2 linked regions of the Homo sapiens genome follow. The protein of the gene in region 2 purifies or fractionates together with the protein of the main gene of each other region. This does not show direct contact. Each region holds a gene or a part of one and is shown on either strand. Other genes may lie near its edges.

Region 1 (3,656 bases), on a different chromosome or scaffold from region 2:
TTTGGAGGTAAGGTTTATCTTATCCTATATGCTTGCCTGTGTCCTGAGGAGCATAACCTCTTATCTGAACTCTCCAGGATAGCTATTGATTTCATACACCCACATACTCTCCCTTTCCCCTTTTGCCCACTTTTTCTCTTTTCTTCTTCAATTGCCCTTTCCTTTTTAAACTTTTTTTCTTACACCTAATTGTCAGTTTAAGGATCTCTATTTGGCCTTGCAGTTAACAGTCCAGCATTTCTTTTCCAAGTGTGACCCCACTTTCTGCCCCCTGATTAAAAAAAAAAAAAAAAAAAAAGTATAGTCAAAGACCATGGTAATCAACAAGACAATTTGTTTGTGCTTCTGAGGAAATTTCACAATTTTCTGAACTCTACAGCTATTACATATTCTGTGTCTTCTCTCTGTTGAGGTCTGGATTTAATGCTTTCTTTGTATTGCTGATCCTTAAGCATGATTAGAGAAAGAATTGAGTCTAACAGAGTTACTTAGCGAAACATAGGAGCATTCCTATCCTTGGTTAAGTCTGAGCACAAAGGCATTCTCCTAATTCTGCATATAATAAAATAGAGGCAGCTGTAGTCCATTCTCTTGGGGAATATAAAGGCTTCCTTTAGCAGAATGGGTTTATGAGTCAGGGAGCCTCACTGAGAGTGTTCAGTAAGGGTATGTTGAATAAATTTTCCAAATCAAAATTACTTTCATCTGAATAGTGCCAGGCCACACTGGTTTGCATGTTTTCTTTTGTTCATTTTCCAGACTTTTTGAAAAGGCCTTTAGAGAGTTATGTGAAAAAACTAAAAGTACCAGTTCATGTAATTCGAATGGAACAACGTTCTGGATTGATCAGAGCTAGATTAAAAGGAGCTGCTGTGTCTAAAGGCCAAGTGATCACCTTCCTGGATGCCCATTGTGAGTGTACAGTGGGATGGCTGGAGCCTCTCTTGGCCAGGATCAAACATGACAGGTAATTTTCTGGTGTCTGTAAGTTTGCTTTTAGTACATTTGTCCTAAACTATATGGTGAGTTGCCAAATTCTATATTTTTTAAATAAATATAAAAGTAATTTCCTCCCAAGTTTGCTTTAAAATATCCGTGAAGAGGACTCTAAAGGAAATATCCAGAAGACCACATTCTGAAGCCTGGCAGGAATGTTTGCAAACTGTTGTACTAATGAGGAGTGATTAGGAAGCATGTCATTGGAATGTATACTATATGCTGTGTTCACCAAGCTGGAGCAGAACAGATAGATGGTGAACTCAGGGAAGACAGCATAAAACCCTTCACTTGTCCTTGCACTCTAAAGCTAATGCTGGAGCAGGCAGATCCTCTCAGCTTGTAGTGCAGCAAGAAGTAGAAGAGAATGGAGAGAAGCACATTGTGTCCTGAAATGCTTAATTTTGTATGGAAAGCACCATAATCTTAGATAATACAGGAAGAACAGTGGTGTAATGAACACCTGTGGTTATAGTTTTTCATGTTACACATTTTTCAAAGAACTCCCTATTTCTGGCTTAGTTCTTGTGCATCAGGAGAGAACCTGACTTCAGTCTGCTAGACCTATGTTGGTTGAATTTCTGCTTGTCATTGTAATTTGAGGTAGAGACTGTCCATGTTTAGATTTTAGTGGAGTGAACTTTTACTAGTCAAGTGGAACACGGTGGGAGCTAAAGCCACAGCATCTATTCTGTTTGATAGCAAATGCTGGATCTATATTTTTTCCCTTTCAAAGATGAATAAATAGGAAAACTCAGCATTGGGCCAATCAATGGGAAAGTAGAGCAGCTTTAGAAAAGAGAACATTGCCCTGAAGAATCAAAAGAATAGGATATCTGTAAATTATTTTCTTTAAATAATAGATGACGTTTTAGGGAATATTTGCTCGCCTGAAGATAACACACAACCCATAGAGAGAAAGCAAGGTGAGGTGATGACAGAAGTATGGAAGGGAGTCAGCTGAAATAGCAACCACAGTGACTTCCAGTTTGGGCTGCATGGTGGATTCGATATTCTGAATAACTTTTCCAACTGAAAAAGCTGGATAAAAGACAAAACAAATTTTAAATGCATCATTGAGTTGGCACAAAAGGAAGAAATTTGCAAATCTCGAAAAGAAGTGAGAGCAAATGTGCAGTCCAAACACTAAAGCCAGCTTTCGCTGGTAGGGTTTCTGCTGAACTTTGGGGTCACTAAGCTTCTGCCTTGAGAGACAAATAAGATGGAAGGATAGGAGACAAAAACCTAGGTCCTGCCTCAGGTGAGAAGGTTAATAGCAAACACCTGTATAAAGCTGGGCTCTTGAAATCTGTATCTTAGTATAAAGCAAGAATGAAAAATTAATCCCACCACATCAGAGAAAACTTGCCTGTCTCAACCTTGGTATGCAGTGGCAGAGGGGAAACAAATCTCCCCTAAGAATTTGTAAACAATATAGAAAAAGAGGAAACGAACCAAACTCTTTTTATGAGGCTGGTATAACTGTGATATGAAAACCAGAAAAGTACTACAAGGAAAATTACAGTGCAAATCTGTTCATGAATGCTAGTACAAAAATCTCACAATACCAGCAAACTAAACCAGCAATATACACACACACACGTGCACGTATGCGTGTAAAAAACATATCATGATATCATGACTGCTTGGTTTAGCGTAATATTACAAAAACTAATTCGTTTAATACATCCCATTAATGTATTTTTAAAACTGTGATTACAAACTTATTAAACACCTCTGATCACTCCCATAGATAATGAAAAAGGGTTCACTGAAATTTAACATGAATTTATTGTTAGAAAATACTTAGCAAACTATTATACAGTGGAAGTTTACTAATCCAAGAAAGGATGGCTTAAAAAAAAAAAAAAAGCCTTTGCAAGCAGAAATCATGTTAATGGAGAAATGTTGGAAGCATTTTTTAAAAAGATGTGGAAGAAGATGTTAATGCCCTCAATCACCAGTTAGTATTATTAGAAGTCTTTCTTAGGTTTTGCAGTACTACAGTAAATAAAGAACATTTATTTATTGGAAAAAGGAAAAGCATTGTTGTCAATTGTGTATGTGTTTGTGAAGAAAACGAATCTATACATAAAATAATAGAAACAATAAGAATTTAGCAATGTTGCCAAACACGAGATTACTATAGAAAAGTTCAGGCTAGAGCAGTGGCTCACGCCTGTAATCCCAGCTCTTTGGGAGACCGAGGTGGGCAGATCACTTGAACCCAGGAGTTCGAGACCAGTCTGGCCAACATGGCGAAACCCCAGCTCTACTAAAAATACAAAAAATTAGGCAGTCGTGGTGGTGCATGCCTATAGTCCCAACTACTTGGGAGGCTGAGTCGGGAGGATCGCTTGAACTCAGGAAGTCAAGGCTGCAATGAGCCAAGAGTGCACCATTGCCCTCTAGCCTGGGCAACAGGAGTGAGACTCCATCTCCAAACAAAAGAATGAAAAGTTTATTTCACACCAACAAGGAATACTTAGAAAATATAATGCAAAAAGAAAAGATACCATTCGTAATAGCAATGGCAGTCATAGACTACACATAGGAATATGTTTATCAAAAGATTTACTGAAATTCACGAAAAAATCTTGAGAGAGAAATGGATAGGAAAGTCAATATCATAAGAGTATCAATTCTACCCAAATTCATAT
Region 2 (3,656 bases):
AGCAGACACAAACAATACAGAAATGAATGTGACTATTTCCAGGACATCTTTATTACAAAAACAGACCAGAAGCCTGATGTGCCCCACTGTCCACAGTTTGCTAACCCTGGTCTAGATGGAGCTTTTGAAAATCAGAATGTGTAGGAAATGGGAAGAGAGGCAAAGAACTCATCAGGGTGAGCTGTGCTTCAGAAGGCTCAAGAGGCCTTGAAAGAGCTGAGGTTCAAAAGAGTCAGGGGGGCTGGGCGCGGTGGCTCACGCCTGTAATCCCAGCACTTCGGGAGGCCGAGGTGGGCAGATCACCTGAGGTGAGGAGCTCGAGACCAGCCTGGCCAACATGGTGAAACTCCGTGTCTACTAAAAATACAAAATTAGCCAGGCACGACGGCAGGTGCCTGTAATCCCGGTTACTGTGGAGGCTGAGACAGGAGAATCGCTTGAACCCGGGAGGCGGAGGTTGAAATGAGCTGAGATTGCCACCATTGCACTCCAGCCTGGGGAACAAGAGCAAAACTCCATCTCAAAAAAAAAAAAAACTCACAGGGCGAGGGGTGCGTGATAGAACAGAGGGCCTTCAAGGGCTGTTAAGAGACAGAAGGTAGAGAATGTTGGGGTCCCCAGGGAGGTCATAGTGCTGGTGTGGGGAGGCTTTGGAGAATCAGAATGTGACCCCCATGGAAAAGTGATAGGGCCACCACGGGCAGCTGCCCAGGTCGCAGGTTGTATGCTGCATATTTCAGTGGGTGCTCTCGTTTTCCATGTGAATGGCGCCCTCTAGAGTTGCACAGTGCACAACCTATACAGCCATTGGTGGCAACTCTCATGGTGGGGCCCAGCCCACTGAGGCCCTTTCCTCCTGGGCCACCAGGTTTCCCTGCAGTATGAGAAAAGTGGAAGCTTCTACCACACGTGTGGCGGTAGCCTCATCGCCCCCGATTGGGTTGTGACTGCCGGCCACTGCATCTCGTGAGTTCTCTACCCTGTCCCTGCCTGTGGCCCTGGGCAGCGGGGGAGAGTGGGTGATGATGGGGAAGGAGGGAGGTGAGCCAGTCAGGCCCCGACTGACCTCACCTCTGCCTGCAGGAGGGATCTGACCTACCAGGTGGTGTTGGGTGAGTACAACCTTGCTGTGAAGGAGGGCCCCGAGCAGGTGATCCCCATCAACTCTGAGGAGCTGTTTGTGCATCCACTCTGGAACCGCTCGTGTGTGGCCTGTGGGTGAGTGAATGCTCCGGTCTGGAACCCAGGGGCTCCTCTACTTGTCCCTCCATGACCCACAGCCAAGTCTGAGTAGGCTCCAACTCTGAGTAGGGACGTAGGGACATAGGGACATAGGGACAGGGGAGCTGAGTCCAGCAGCCTGTGCCCAGGTCCCACACACTGAGGATTGAAGCCAGCAGAGCCTTTAAGGACCATCACCACCAAACCTGTCTCCCTACAGAGGGGATGGCAGTGTTCAGGGAGGGGCAGGAACTCTGCCAAGGCCACTTGGCTAGTGGCTTCAGAGCTCAGGGTTCCTCTGGCATCCTTCCCCCATATCCGAGGGTTTCTCCATTCAATAGATGGCTCACCCAGTGCATCCTGGGCTCCCAGCACTATGGGCAAAAGGAGGAGCACTGGGCTGAGAGTCAGGCTCTGGCATTAACTCTGTGTATGGCCTGAGCAAGTCACTGGCCTTCTCTGGGCCTTAGTTTTGCCATTTGTCAAAAGGTGACCATGAAGTTGGGCTTCCTGGGTGGTGTGAAGGCCAAGGAGACAATCTTATGCCTTTCAAGTGTATGAAAAAATCTTAACAAATATTAGCCAGGCGTGGTGGCATGAGCCTGTAATCCCAGCTACTGGAAAGGCTGAGGCAGGAGAATCACTTGAACTCGGGAGGCGGAGGCTGCAGTGAGCCAAGATCATGCCACTGCACTCCAGCCTGGGCAACAGAGCGAGACTCTGACTCAAAAATAAATAAATGAATAAATAAAATTCCTCAGCCTTAAGAACGATTTGGGCCAGGTATAGTGGCTCATGCCTGTAATTCCAGCACTTCAGGAGGTGAAAGCAGGAGGATCCCTTGGCCCAGGAGGCTGCAGTGAGCTATGATTGTGACACTGCACTCCAGCCTGGGCAACAGACCGAGACTCTGTCTCAATAATAATAATAATAATAATAATAATGATGATGAAAGAGTGGATTTGGAGGGTAAAGAAGTTGGGGCATCTCAGAGGTGGAATAGCCTGGAGCAACGGCTAGAAGGTAGGACTTGGGCCGGCTGGAGGACCAGGCCCCGTGACTGTTCCCTCCTCCCCAGCAATGACATCGCCCTCATCAAGCTCTCACGCAGCGCCCAGCTGGGAGATGCCGTCCAGCTCGCCTCACTCCCTCCCGCTGGTGACATCCTTCCCAACAAGACACCCTGCTACATCACCGGCTGGGGCCGTCTCTATAGTACGTGCTGACTTCTCTAGCTGGCCACAGAGACAGTGGCAGAAAGACAGGGCCTGGGGGCTGCAGGTTGAAGGTAACACCAAGACCGGACCTTGTACTTTTCTCCCATTTCTCTCCAGCTGCAGCCTTCTTCCATCAACCTCCAAAACACGAATGTGGTCAATTGCACATGTTTTGGTATCTTCTGTGTGCCACGTGCTAGGGATGTAATGGTGCACAAAGCATGCAGGACCATTTAGCGGGTGGGAGGAGAGTCCTCATCAGGGCAGAAGAACTGTGGGCCTTGAATGCCCCCTTCCTCTGGGGCACCTAGCGGTGTGCCCCCAGACCCCTGACTCGGTGCTTTTTATCCTTGCAGCCAATGGGCCACTCCCAGACAAGCTGCAGCAGGCCCGGCTGCCCGTGGTGGACTATAAGCACTGCTCCAGGTGGAACTGGTGGGGTTCCACCGTGAAGAAAACCATGGTGTGTGCTGGAGGGTACATCCGCTCCGGCTGCAACGTGAGTCAGCTCTTACCTGCCCGAGGTGGTGCTGGGTGTGCAGGACCTTGGAATGGGGCCAACTGCCTGGAAGGTGGAGGAAGGATCTTGCCTGCTTGCCCCATTCAGCCTCCAGGCCAGGCAGGACTTGGAGGAAATCAGCGCAGTCCAGACACAGAGCCCAGGCCTGGGAGTCAGGACCCCCGGGTTGCAGTCTCAGCTCACACACTGACATGACTTGGGACAAGTCACTGTGTCTCCCTGGTCCTCAGGCTTCCGCATCAGCACAGCAGGAGATACTGGTCCCATGACCTCTAACGCAGGTCAATTCTGTGGTTCTAAAGTTATAATTAACCATTAAGAATACCATCATTGTTCTGGGCACAGTCCCTCCTGCCTATAATCCAAGTGCTTTGGGAGGCTGAGGTGGGAGGATTGCTTGAGGCTAGGAGTTTGAGACCAGCCTAGGTAATATAGTGAGATGCCCATCTACAGAAAAACTTTTTTTACTTAGTCAGGCATGGTGGCACTCGCCTGTAGTCCCAACTACTTGATAGGCTGAGGTGGGAGGATTGTTTGAGCCTGGGAGTTCAAGCTCACAGTGGCTATGATTTTTGCCACTGCACCCAAGCCTGGCGACACAGCAAGACGTTGTCTCTTTTTTTTTTTTTTTTGAGACAGGATCTTGCTCTGTTGCCCAGGCTGGAGTGCAGTAATGCCATCATAGCCCACTGTAGCCT

What was found.
Region 1: the proteins of CELA3A (region 2) and GALNT1 purify together in Homo sapiens (affinity purification with mass spectrometry; one large-scale study listed by BioGRID and IntAct). This does not show direct contact.

Annotation. Positions count from the first base shown.
Region 1 is NC_000018.10:35,682,632-35,686,287, forward strand, and holds part of GALNT1 (polypeptide N-acetylgalactosaminyltransferase 1), read left to right. Parts: intron 1-759; coding exon 760-967; intron 968-3,435; exon of another isoform or gene 3,436-3,656. UniProt on the Homo sapiens protein: Catalyzes the initial reaction in O-linked oligosaccharide biosynthesis, the transfer of an N-acetyl-D-galactosamine residue to a serine or threonine residue on the protein receptor.
Region 2 is NC_000001.11:22,004,579-22,008,234, forward strand, and holds part of CELA3A (chymotrypsin-like elastase family member 3A preproprotein), read left to right. Parts: intron 1-868; coding exon 869-966; intron 967-1,083; coding exon 1,084-1,218; intron 1,219-2,299; coding exon 2,300-2,436; intron 2,437-2,794; coding exon 2,795-2,937; intron 2,938-3,656. UniProt on the Homo sapiens protein: Efficient protease with alanine specificity but only little elastolytic activity.